Linked DNA regions of Homo sapiens. The protein of the gene in region 3 interacts with the protein of the main gene of each other region in a biochemical or structural test. Each region holds a gene or a part of one and is shown on either strand. Other genes may lie near its edges.

Region 1 (3,752 bases), on a different chromosome or scaffold from region 3:
TCAAATACCAAATAACAAAACAAAAAAGTAAAACAAGATGAAACAAAAATACAGTCCTGAAATTCAGGAAACCCATAAATATTTCCATGCCAATATGTAAACTCTACAAATTTTGCTGTTTCTACGGATCTTTGATAAATGCAAGTCAAAAAACAAAGACTCAAGTAAAAGTAGCTTCCATCAGCTAAAAATATATACCTCTCCAACGAAGACATCTAAGTTCAAACAACAGTGATTTAAAAACAAAAACAAAAACGAATAATGTGTACCTGCAGGAAATCCCATTACATTGAATATTCTGTCCAGCTGGTCATGGTGATAAGGATTACTAGTTTTGATGTCCTCTTGTCGACAGTGAAATATTGGTTCTGACGTTAGTAGTTCTGCAAATATACACCCTATAGCCCAAATATCTTTAAAACAAAAAGAAAAAAAAAAAGAAAGAAAAATAGGCAAGGAAAAAAGAAAAAGAAAGGTGCAAAATAAAGTGGTTCTTTCCAAAAGAAAATGCAATTTTATTTTCTTGGGGAGTGTTTTTTTCTTTCTTTCCCTAATAACTCATATTAATTCCTAAGCAATTATAATTACTAAATACCATGAAACATTATTATAAGTATATATTCCCATGCCCTCCACCCCGATTTTTCATTCTGTATACCTCCATACCACCCAAATGGTTTCACTCTAAGCCCAATTAAATGTACTGGCTGGATTTTGGTGAGTTTTCAATGTCCAGGTGATACCTTTTCTGTGAACTACAGTAAAGCTGCATATGGAGCATGGGAACTACAACCAAAGAAAACTAAACAAAAACAAACGGAAAACCCAAACAGTATTTGAAATTGGGCACTCGCCTAACATAATCAGTGTAAATTTTTGTGATAAAATATTTTTTATTTTATTTACTTGCTAATTTGCAAGGTCTAATAATTACCCTCTCATGTTAGCACTAATCAGTAAGGTGGTATTCCACCAAGAGACAATGTCCGACCTCAAAACGCCTAAGAATTAACAGCATTTCTACTTTAACAAAGTTTTTTTTCCAAAGTGGTTCTTGATGCCATAAGCAGTATCAGATTTTGCAAATTTAAGTATTTAATGCAAAGGACAGGAAGCAAAAGCAAAATATTACTGTTAACATGGATTATAAATTCGGCCGGGTGTGGTGGCTCATGCCTATAATCCCAGCATGTTGGGAGGCTGAGGAGGACGGATCACGAGGTCAGGAAATCAAGACCAGCCTGGCCAACATAGTTAAATCCTGTCTCTACTAAAAATACAAAAATTAGCTGGGCATGGCGGCACGCGGCTATAGTCCCAGCTACTCAGGAGGCTGAGGCAGGAGAATTGCTTGAACCCGGGAGGCAGAGGCTGCAGTGAGCCGAGATCGCGCCACTGCACTCTTGCCTGGGCGACAGAGCAAGACTCCGTCTCAAAAAAAAAAAAAAAAAAAAAGGGTTATAAATTCAAATGAATTATTGACAAAAGCCAGGCAAATGGGTTTCTCTGTACACAACAAAGTAAATTCCTTTCATTCACAAGATACAGATTTACTTTCATTCAAATTAAATTTGTACTCAAAAGAACTATTAGTAGAGGTAAGATCTATTTGCCAATTTAGAATTTAAAGCTGAAAATATTTCATTTCTACTCTTAACAAATCCTAAACTAAGTACAATGGTGTGCATATAGCAGACCCTCAACACATGGTTTTTGACTGACTTAACCAATACCTGTGACAAATATAAATAACCAAAGGGAACAAATCAAAATTACTATTTTATCAAAGCTGATTGTTCAGATATGTTAATAACTGTCACTTAAACAGGAAATAAGAAAAAACCTAAAATGAGAATTCCTAAATTCCAAAACTGGAATAGAGATATTTAATTTAATCTAAAATTTCACATATTTACATTTCAAAGTAACAAGTTAATCACCTATTTACTTAAAGATTCACACTGACTGCAGCAAGTGATTTTAAAAAATGACATCGTATTTACATATCAGAGAACCAAGCCTAGCCAATACCATCATATGGAAAAGTCTCATCAAGAAACATAGGCCAACCTATTTTGTTTTTGTCATCGAAAGGTATATGGGAAAATTAATTATTTTGTGATTATTCTTTTTATATGGGTATACCCTATAAATCTAACCTTTGATAATCAATGGCCACATAGGCAGCTAAGTAGGATCACAAAAAGGGATGATGGATGGCTTTGCATGTTTAAAATTCTACTTACAGCACACCCAATAAACACTGTAACAATTCATCTGGTTAGTTATTAAAAATTCCAAAGAAGAAAATAAAATATGTAAAGGAAGATGAAAGGTAAGTAGTTTAGCTATAATTAAAGCTACACTGCTCTTAGCTGAGCATACTGGCATATGCCTGTAGTCCCAGCTACTCAGGAGGCTGAGGCGGGAGGATCGCTTGAGCCCAGGAGTTTGAATCCAGCCTTGACAACATAGCAAGACCCTATTTCACAGAAAAAATGTATGCAAAGCTACACTGCTTTTTAAAGAAAAAGTCCAGTCAACAGGAAAAATAACTTATTGAACCTTGCTTAACTCCCTCCCATCTAGTAACTCTTCTGTCTTTATAACTGCTATTCTCTCTCACCTTTGTCAATTTTACCATTCTTCCTTTCTTCAAAATCCTGACCCATACATTAATCATTAACTCTGAGTCAGCTGATCAGGCTATTATTGCAGATAAATTTCTAATTATTGTAAATAAGTTTCTTTTTCCTACCTTGTTTTTTTTTTTTTTTTAGATTGTGCCCAATTCATGGAAAGTCTCTTTAGTGTTCACCTGCCTGCCAAACTCCTTATAAAATGGCTTTCCAAATTAAAAACATATAAGTTTCATCTACTTCTCAAAATGTGTGATGCTTATAGGTAGCTACTGAGCTAACCAGGCAAAGGAAATAGTAGGAATTGGCATGCTATACAGACCAAATTTGGGAGGAGAAAAGACTTTGCTCAATAATATTTGAATCAACAAGTGTAGTAATAGCAAGCTTCTTGTTTTGATAAAAGGGAAGAAATTCTCATTTTCTCTATTTTAATGTGTATTTCCCACTTAGCAGAATGCCTCACATTTAGTGGCCATGCAGCTATTTGAGGACAAACACCTGAGCTTAAAAGTCCATACTTCAGTAAGACTTTTAGGACTACTTTAGTGGCACTGAATTAGAGATTGATATCCCTTTTTTTAGCCTTTTCCCCAAAGTAAATCAGACAAACAAAAATAAAAAACAAAACACTCAAAAGTGAATTAAACTTAGTTCCTGGGATTACAATGTTTACTAACCTATTATTTCCTCTCTTTGGTTTAGTGACTCAGCTTGCAGTTCTGCACAACGGAATAAACCAGCACAGCACTACAATCTGTTTGTAGTAGATGGGGCATATGTGAGTTTGATGCGTTCTGATCAGATTTTTTTCCCTATGCTTTTGCTCCTTCTTAGTAGCTTCGTAACAGATGTAACCCCTTCATTAAATGGAATGTATTCAGCAAATTATCTGTATGTTCAACTAGAAAGGCTCTTCTATCACCTGCTCACAATTCAGCTATCAAACAAGGAAGTCAAAATGCTGGGGAAGTTCTTGGTAAGCAGCTTTAATGGTGGTGTGAGAAATTTGTTGAGTATTTTAATCTTTAGGCTACCTCTGCAGGAGACAGGAGGAATGGGATTGTGTGGTAGAGGCTGGTATTAAAGAAAAGGTTCCATTTTGTAATTCCT
Region 2 (3,752 bases), on a different chromosome or scaffold from region 3:
ATCAGATAAGTTCTATAACTCACTATGTTACCAAAGAGAAAAGTGAAGAACATAAACCATATCCTCATAATCTAAAACAGTACCTAACATGTAATGACACTGATCATAATAGCTAAATTGTATAAAACTATGTGACAAGTACTTTTCTAAAAACTGAAGGAGGCCGGGTGTGGTGGCTCACGCTTGTAATCCCATGACTTTGGGTGCCCGAGGCGTGCGGATCAATCACTCGAGGTCAGGAGTTTGAGACCAGCCTAGCCAACAAGGCGAAACCTTGTCTCTACTAAAAATACAAAAAATTGGCCAGATGCGGTGGCTCACGCCTGTAATCTCAGCACTTTGGGAAGCCGAGGCAGGCGGATCACGAGGTCAGGAGTTCACCACCAGCCTGATCAACATTGTGAAACCCCGTCCCTACTAAGAATACAAAAATTAGCCGGGCGTGGTGGCGCGCACCTGTAATCTCAGCTACTTGGCTGAGGCAGGAGAATCGCTTGAACCTGGGAGGCAGAGGTTGCAGTGAGCTGAGATCATGCCATTGCCCTCCAGTCTAAGCGACAGAGCAAGACTTCATCTCAAAAAAAAACCAAAAAACAAAAAATTAGAAGGGCCTGGTGGCAGGCGCCTATAGCCCCAGCTACTTGGGAGGCTGAGGCAGGAGAATCCCTTGAACCTGGGAAGGGGAGGTTGCAGTGAGCCAAGATCGCACCACTGCACTCCAGCCTGGACAACAGAGCGAGACTCCATCTCAAAAAAAAAAAAAAAAAAAATGGGCCAGGCACGGTGGCTCACGCTTGTAATCCCAGCACTTTGGGAGGCAGAGGTTGCAGTGAGCCGAGGCTGCGCCACTGCACTCCAGCCTGGGTGACAGAGCGAGACTACGTCTCAAAAAAAAAAAAAAAAAAAAGAACATGAGGAGGTGTTGGGAGTTATGGACACAGGGGATGGGTCAGATGTGTTTCAGAGTATGCAGAGCAGGCTCCTGGGACCATACTTACCCGAACTCGGTTGATGCCACCATAGTGGGGCACCATGGCCAGCTCCAGCTGAGGTTTCCGCTCTTCTTCATCCTCTTCATCTTCCTCCTCTTCTTCTTCATCACTGCCCTCTGAGGGTGGGGGCTTTGTCCCATGCAGATTGTGCATCCGAAGCATCATCAGTCTGGGAGAAATTGTGGGGTGAGTTAGGCACTAGATTCCAGGATTCTTAGGAAGGAGAGAGGCTGGAAACCCAGACTCCTGGATCTGCGAGAGGCAGAAACTGGAAGCCCTAACTCCTGGGTGCTGAGGAAGGGGCTGGAAACTGAGCCTCCTGGTCCTGGAAAAGCCTCGGGTCTTACCTGTTGCTCTGGGCGCTCTCAGCCTGGGTCCCAGCACACAAGTAAAGTGTAAGAGGAAGCTCTGTCCGGTTGTCTCCCAGGTGATCCCGGACTATGTCAAAGCTGAGACAGGGGGCGCCTGGGGATGGAAGGCGGGGTTTACGAGTTAAGACGGGACAGTAAGAGCTCAGTCCCCACCTCCCTCATGGATCAACCGCCTCCGGTATGAAATCACTTCTCTTAGACCCCAGCCTTCTCTTCCCGAGCACCTCTCAGGTTAAAGGCTCGGGATCAGCCACCTCAGGACCCTGGAGTCCGGACTCAGCCCTACCAGTCTGCGCTCGGTGGTAGAGCACATAGGCCTCCTCGTCCATGACCAGCTCCTCCCCTTCGCGTAGCGGCGGCCCCCGGCCGGGCAGGTAGACCTGGGCCGGGCCCTCGGAACTTGTGTCGCCGGACTCGGCTTCCATGGGTTCCCCGGTTTCACACGTGCGCCGCCGACCCTTGCGCGCCGCCATCTTCGAACCCTCTCGCTGCTGACACCCGGTAAGAGCGTCACTTCCGGGTTTCGCTTTCCGCCTAATGAGATCCGCCCTACTGCGCGGTTACCTTGGAAACTCCTGGGACCGCTAATCGGAGAGGGTGCGGAAACGCTGGAGGAGAACTCAGGTAATGGCGCCAGCGAAAGAAGCCTGCGGATACGGAGAAACTGCATCTTCGCGTGACTTTGGGCGCTGTTCCTCGCGGTAGTGGCAAGGCCTTCTGGGAGTTGTAGTTCTACGGGAGGCTTGTTTTCCCCATTGTCCAGTTTGATTCCGAGAGCGTTCTTTCCAGTTAATTAATTATTCATATATGCAAATTTGCTCTTTCACTGGCAAGGAGACTGAGTTTCTACTCCCCGAGGACCCATAAGGCCGGTTTCTTTTCCTCTCTCTGTTGTGATGGCTTTCATTTGTTTCAAAAATGCTTTCTTGTAGACAGGATGGATATTATCTGTAAGTTAGGCGGTTCAATCTACCCTCTAGGGGCAGTCAATTGCCTAACCAGACATTCACATTTCAGCTCTGGTCAGCGAGCACTTAATCAGAAAGTCCACCCTCTGGAGGCAGCTATTACAAGTGCTTCGTCTCTCTTTATCGCCCATCAGCACCAGCGGTTTGGCTAATTGACATAATGAAATGTTAGAAATAGATTCTCATTGGTGAGATTAACAGCATTCAAGATAATGCGGATTGGCTGGGATATGTCAGACACTCTCCTAGCTTGCATGAACAGGATATTGAGAATGTAGCAAGCCTTGGTACCTATAGCCATAGGAAATAAAACCATACCTTTGATCTTAATATGTTTTGTCTCCGGGATCTATCTCACCACTCTCTTGGGGTCTCTTATCTGCCCCAGTACCCTCTCGACTTTCTTTTCAGGGTCTCTTCCCACCTCCTCTTTCTTGGTCTTTGTCTCCCCAGGCACCTCCTTTCAGAGTCTCTGTTCTCTCTCTAATTCTGTCTCCTCTTCCCCTGTGGGACTTTTGTGTTTCTGTTTCCTCCAGAGAATTTGAGGGGGGCTAACAGATACGGAGCTTAGGCTTGGACTGAGGAGGCATAAAAACATGGTTTATTCCAAACACTGCAATGTGGAATAAGAGAGTGGGAAGGGAAGTTGGTGGAGAAGTGTGGACTCCCAGACCCTCCCCTCCGCAACCCAGCCCCAGACCCGGCTGGAGATCTGGGCAGAGGAGGCTTTTTGGAGGTCTGCTGGGTCATCACTGAAGGGTCGCAAATAAGGGTTGGATTTGGAGAGGATGTGCTTGGTGGCAAGTGGGGTGGTCCGGAGGTGCGGCAGGGTGGGAAGTTTTGGCTTCAGGGAGGTTGGGTTCATCGCGGTGCAAGGGAAGGCGGGGCTTCCGTTGGGGACGTGTCCTAGGTCAGAGTAGGGAAAAGCGACCGAGGGTGGAAGAGGAGGAGGGGGTGTCACGGTTTGATGTCAAGGGTCACAGTCTGGTCGGGGCACAGTCTGGGGTTCGGGTCACAGTTTGGGGTCAGGGGTCACAGTCTGGAGTCGGATGACCATTTTAGGAGTCGGATGTCACAGTCTGGGTCAGGGGTTTCTGTGTGGCGGGGCCAAGGTCTGGGGTCACAGTTTGGCGAACGCGTCTCACAGTTTTGAGTCCCAATGGATGAAAGGTTAAAAACGGGCTTCCCCGGAGGCGCGGCTGGGGCCGGGGAGCTGCACAGTGATGTGGGGGCCACGGCCCCGGGCGTGGAGGTGGGACGCGGGAGTGGCGTGAACCCCCCACCTCCCGCCCCATCTGGTGACGTTAAAAAGCCCTTGTCGGGTTTAAAAAAAAGTCCGGTGGGCTCCAAGGCCCCCGCCCCCTCGTTCTCAGGCTGGGTGATAGTTGAGGGACCAAATCCTCTCCGGCTTGCGGTTCCTC
Region 3 (3,752 bases):
TACTGATTGCTTTAACATCTTTTGTTGGAGCTTACCTAGGTGTTTCTTAGGAATGCTAATGAACTGTGTTCTTTAGGCTCCTTGAATCCACAGAAACAAAAATGTTAATTTCAAAGGCTCAGAGGGGAATTAATTGCCTGGTAGAGATGCCTCCCCACCCCAAATCTGATGGGAAGGGTAGAAGGGAGATGGTAAATTAAAACATTTATTACACATTTCAGAAAAATTTAGCAGACAGGTAAGTGAGTGAAACTAGAAGCTTAAGACAACAAATGAAAAATGAATACCTACCAAAAAGAAATTAAGGGTCAGGCACAGTGGCTCATGCCCAGCACTTTGAGAGGCTGAGGTGGGCAGGCTGCTTGAGCCCAGGGGTTCAAGACCAGCCTGGGCAACATGGCGAGAAACCTCGTCTCTACAAAAAATGCAAAAATTAGCCCGGCGTGGTGACATGCACCTGTAGTTCCAGCTACTTGGGAGGGTGAGGTAGGAGGATCGCTTGAGCCCAGGAGGCAGAGGTTGCAGTGAGCTGCAATCACACTACTGCGCTCCAGCCCGGGCAACAAACAGAAACCCTGTCTGCCCCCCACCCCGCCCAAAAAAAAAGTAAAGGAAAGAAGTTAAAATTAAAAGTTGCCTACCTTCCTTGGAATTTCTTTCTTACTAAACGTTAAGAGACATAAATGACACACATAAAGACAGTTAATACAAACTTCGATACAGATAGCCAAAGTTGATATTACGATCTATATACTCCAGAGATATGCATGAGATACCAGTAACATCACTTCTCTCCCAGTGTGAAAAATATCTAGGATCTTTCCTATACACACAGAAAATGTTCAACAATATCTATTTACTATTAAATCATTTCAGCAAACTATCAGCCATTTCTCATAACGCCACCAAAATACCATCAATATCTAACAGACATTCCTCTACAAGCTTCCCCGCAACCCCCAATCAAACTTTGTCCACCCTGCCCTCATTTACATCCCTCTCCACCCTTCCCAGGCCCTATGCTATCAACACAGCACATACTGTCCACATCTAGATAGGCAGGTGGCAGGGAGGGTGGGGGTTGGCAAAATGCTAATTATTCCAACCCTGGCCTCTATTTTAGATTTTCTACTGCAGCTATTGGCCTGGAGCCATGGGGATGGAAAGCTGCTGCTCAAACTTGAGATGTATGAGGCATGGAAATAGGGAGAAAAGACAGTTCCAAATATTACTACTCGAAGTTTAAACACAATCTGAAAGCTTCCTTTAAACACAATACCCATTCGCCTCTTAAGGACTAGTTTGGAAGTCTCTAAACTTTTTACCTTAAGAAATCCATGTGTCAACTGTTTGCCTAAATGCCCTTATTATCCAAAGTTAATGGTTTCAAAATAATTAAGGGATAGTCAGATAATCTAAACCATACAACACAGAAAATTCACTCAACTGACTCTCACCTCCACATCCAATATATTTTACTATTCTTTCAATAGGGTTTTTTTTTTTAAACCTCCAGGTCCAATGTCAAAATACTCATTTCAAACATTTCCACAGCTTCATTCAAACTAATTACATTTGAATTCATTTTCCCAAGCAAACACAGTTTACTGGAGTTCGACACAGTTTCACATGGGAAAGATGCAATCCCTCACAAAACACACTTCTGAGGAAACGACTTTGGATTTGAAGAATATCAGTTTTACTTTGCACTAAAAAGATGGCAAAAGGCAAAAGTTGATAATGATGTGTCATATAAATATGCATTCATGTCCAACTAATATGAAATAACATGGTTTTAGTATAATCTGAAACTTCTAAAATGATATGTATTCAGAAAGCACAACAGAATCATTTTCCATACCATTAGCAGCAGGGACAACTGTTACTATATAATTAATATACAACAAAGCTGTATATTAGAAGGCAAACATTTTTTTGCACCTCCCCACCCCACACATGCACTGAAAACAAGCAAAACAAAAAAACCTCACAGCCCAATTTTGGAATATAAACTTTAAGACATGTTATTTAATAATCTGAACAAACTAATGAATGTCTTTCCAACTCTCTCAATTCCCCATCTTTATGCTGACAGCAAGGGGAAAAAGTCAGACTCAATTCCTTTTTTTTTTTTTTTTTTTTGCTGCTATTGGTTAAAATGAGATTTGGGGACTGACCTTGGTTTCCTATTTTCCATTTTACTCTATCTACTGAACCAAAGAAAAGCAGGAGTTGGTGACCGTTACTGCTAGCTATATTATTTAGTTTGCACCTTTCAAGCCACAACGTATTTCTGATTCTTTTAGTGATGCCTGGATTTTCTTGTTTTTACTAGAAACATCCAATCCGAGCCTAAAATTTGTTTGTGAGATCTGATATGCTGGTAAACTAAAAAAACACATATTGACAAGCAACTTTCTTTTATGTCAAAGCATAGTATAAAAATCCTAGCGGCTCACTAATTCTAAAAAGGTGCCTCAAGGAGTCCAGTTGCAATGTAAGGGAAGAAAACCACCCTGGAGCATAATGCTTAAGTATTTCCTGATTGAGTCTGAGGATGCTGCAGATTTCATTTGGCGGTACCATCACTTTTCAGTTTTAAAAATGTAGTGGCAATTTTCAGATAGCCACATCATCAGCTATCTGAAATTCCCCCACCGCAATCAGCTATGCTACCGCCCATCCCAACCCATACCCAACAGACAGAAGTACAACTATCTATTAGCATCAGAAACAATTCATATTTAATTACCTTCATCCAATTTGATTCCATTAAGCCAACCAGAATCAGCACAAGATGATGTCAAACCATGATCCTATATATCACTTCTTAGACTAAAGACTGATGGAGCCAAGTATTGTGCTTTGCTAAGGGGGTCAAATGGGGGAGAACTCCCTATCTCCATAGCAGACAGGCAAAAACTTCAAGACCTCTGAAACAGCAGAAGAATCGCTAACACTTTAACCTGGTATTACCATTATCAATTCTACAGATAGCTACGCAGCCTGTACAGTACTGTAATAATGACTCAGCCCCACTACAGTTAGTTCTACCAATACTTAGGAAGTCTTTTCACTTAGACTTAGATATGGTTTCTGCTCCAAATTCCTAACTCACTGTCAACATTTTAAATATAAATAACAGAGTCTCCCAGCAGTTGAGTATGGGTCAGAATGTTCTAAATTACATGCAAAGAGCTACAATTTTAAATATTGCGAAGAATGAGCTCCAAAGTGGGGGGACGGGGGGGAATCTTTTATATCTTAGGGGATGAGGGCAGGCAAAATGAGAGACGTTTGATTTTAATATATGAACTTGTACAGTTAATCTGTAAGATGGGTTAGGCCCTCTTAAAATCACGCTTAAACAATCTCTTAATACAAAGTTCAATAATGACATGTCTGGGCATAATTAAACATTGATTTCTACTTTTTTTAAAGTTTTTTTCATAGTTACATAAATCAATCACTGGTTAACAATGTATTACTTGAGATAGCAAGCATAGTTACCAACACCACATCTTCCAGACAATATTCACAAAGAATAATTACACCAATGTCAGAACTTTATGGTGGCAGATTCTCTTCAAAAAGCATGTTTAGATAAAAAGCAAATGACAAATTATCAAATCCTTCCTTCTCTCCTTTTTCAGCTCTGTAAGAAAATAGAGATTTGTGGCTTTTTATTTTTTCATGCTAGTATCATATAGTATCACTCTAGCATAGTGGCTCAGCTCATGGGATTTAGAGTG

Evidence for each region.
Region 1: the proteins of TOP1 (region 3) and CDK8 interact in a test that uses a peptide from one of them, tested with the Homo sapiens proteins (one study listed by BioGRID).
Region 2: the proteins of TOP1 (region 3) and GRWD1 interact in a test that uses a peptide from one of them, tested with the Homo sapiens proteins (one study listed by BioGRID).

Annotation. Positions count from the first base shown.
Region 1 is NC_000013.11:26,390,028-26,393,779, reverse strand, and holds part of CDK8 (cyclin-dependent kinase 8), read right to left. Parts: intron 414-3,752; coding exon 270-413; intron 1-269.
Region 2 is NC_000019.10:48,444,090-48,447,841, reverse strand, and holds the start of GRWD1 (glutamate-rich WD repeat-containing protein 1), read right to left. Parts: upstream 1,860-3,752; 5' UTR 1,837-1,859; coding exon 1,650-1,836; intron 1,458-1,649; coding exon 1,340-1,457; intron 1,162-1,339; coding exon 999-1,161; intron 1-998. UniProt on the Homo sapiens protein: Histone binding-protein that regulates chromatin dynamics and minichromosome maintenance (MCM) loading at replication origins, possibly by promoting chromatin openness.
Region 3 is NC_000020.11:41,031,738-41,035,489, reverse strand, and holds part of TOP1 (DNA topoisomerase 1), read right to left. Parts: intron 1-3,752. UniProt on the Homo sapiens protein: Releases the supercoiling and torsional tension of DNA introduced during the DNA replication and transcription by transiently cleaving and rejoining one strand of the DNA duplex.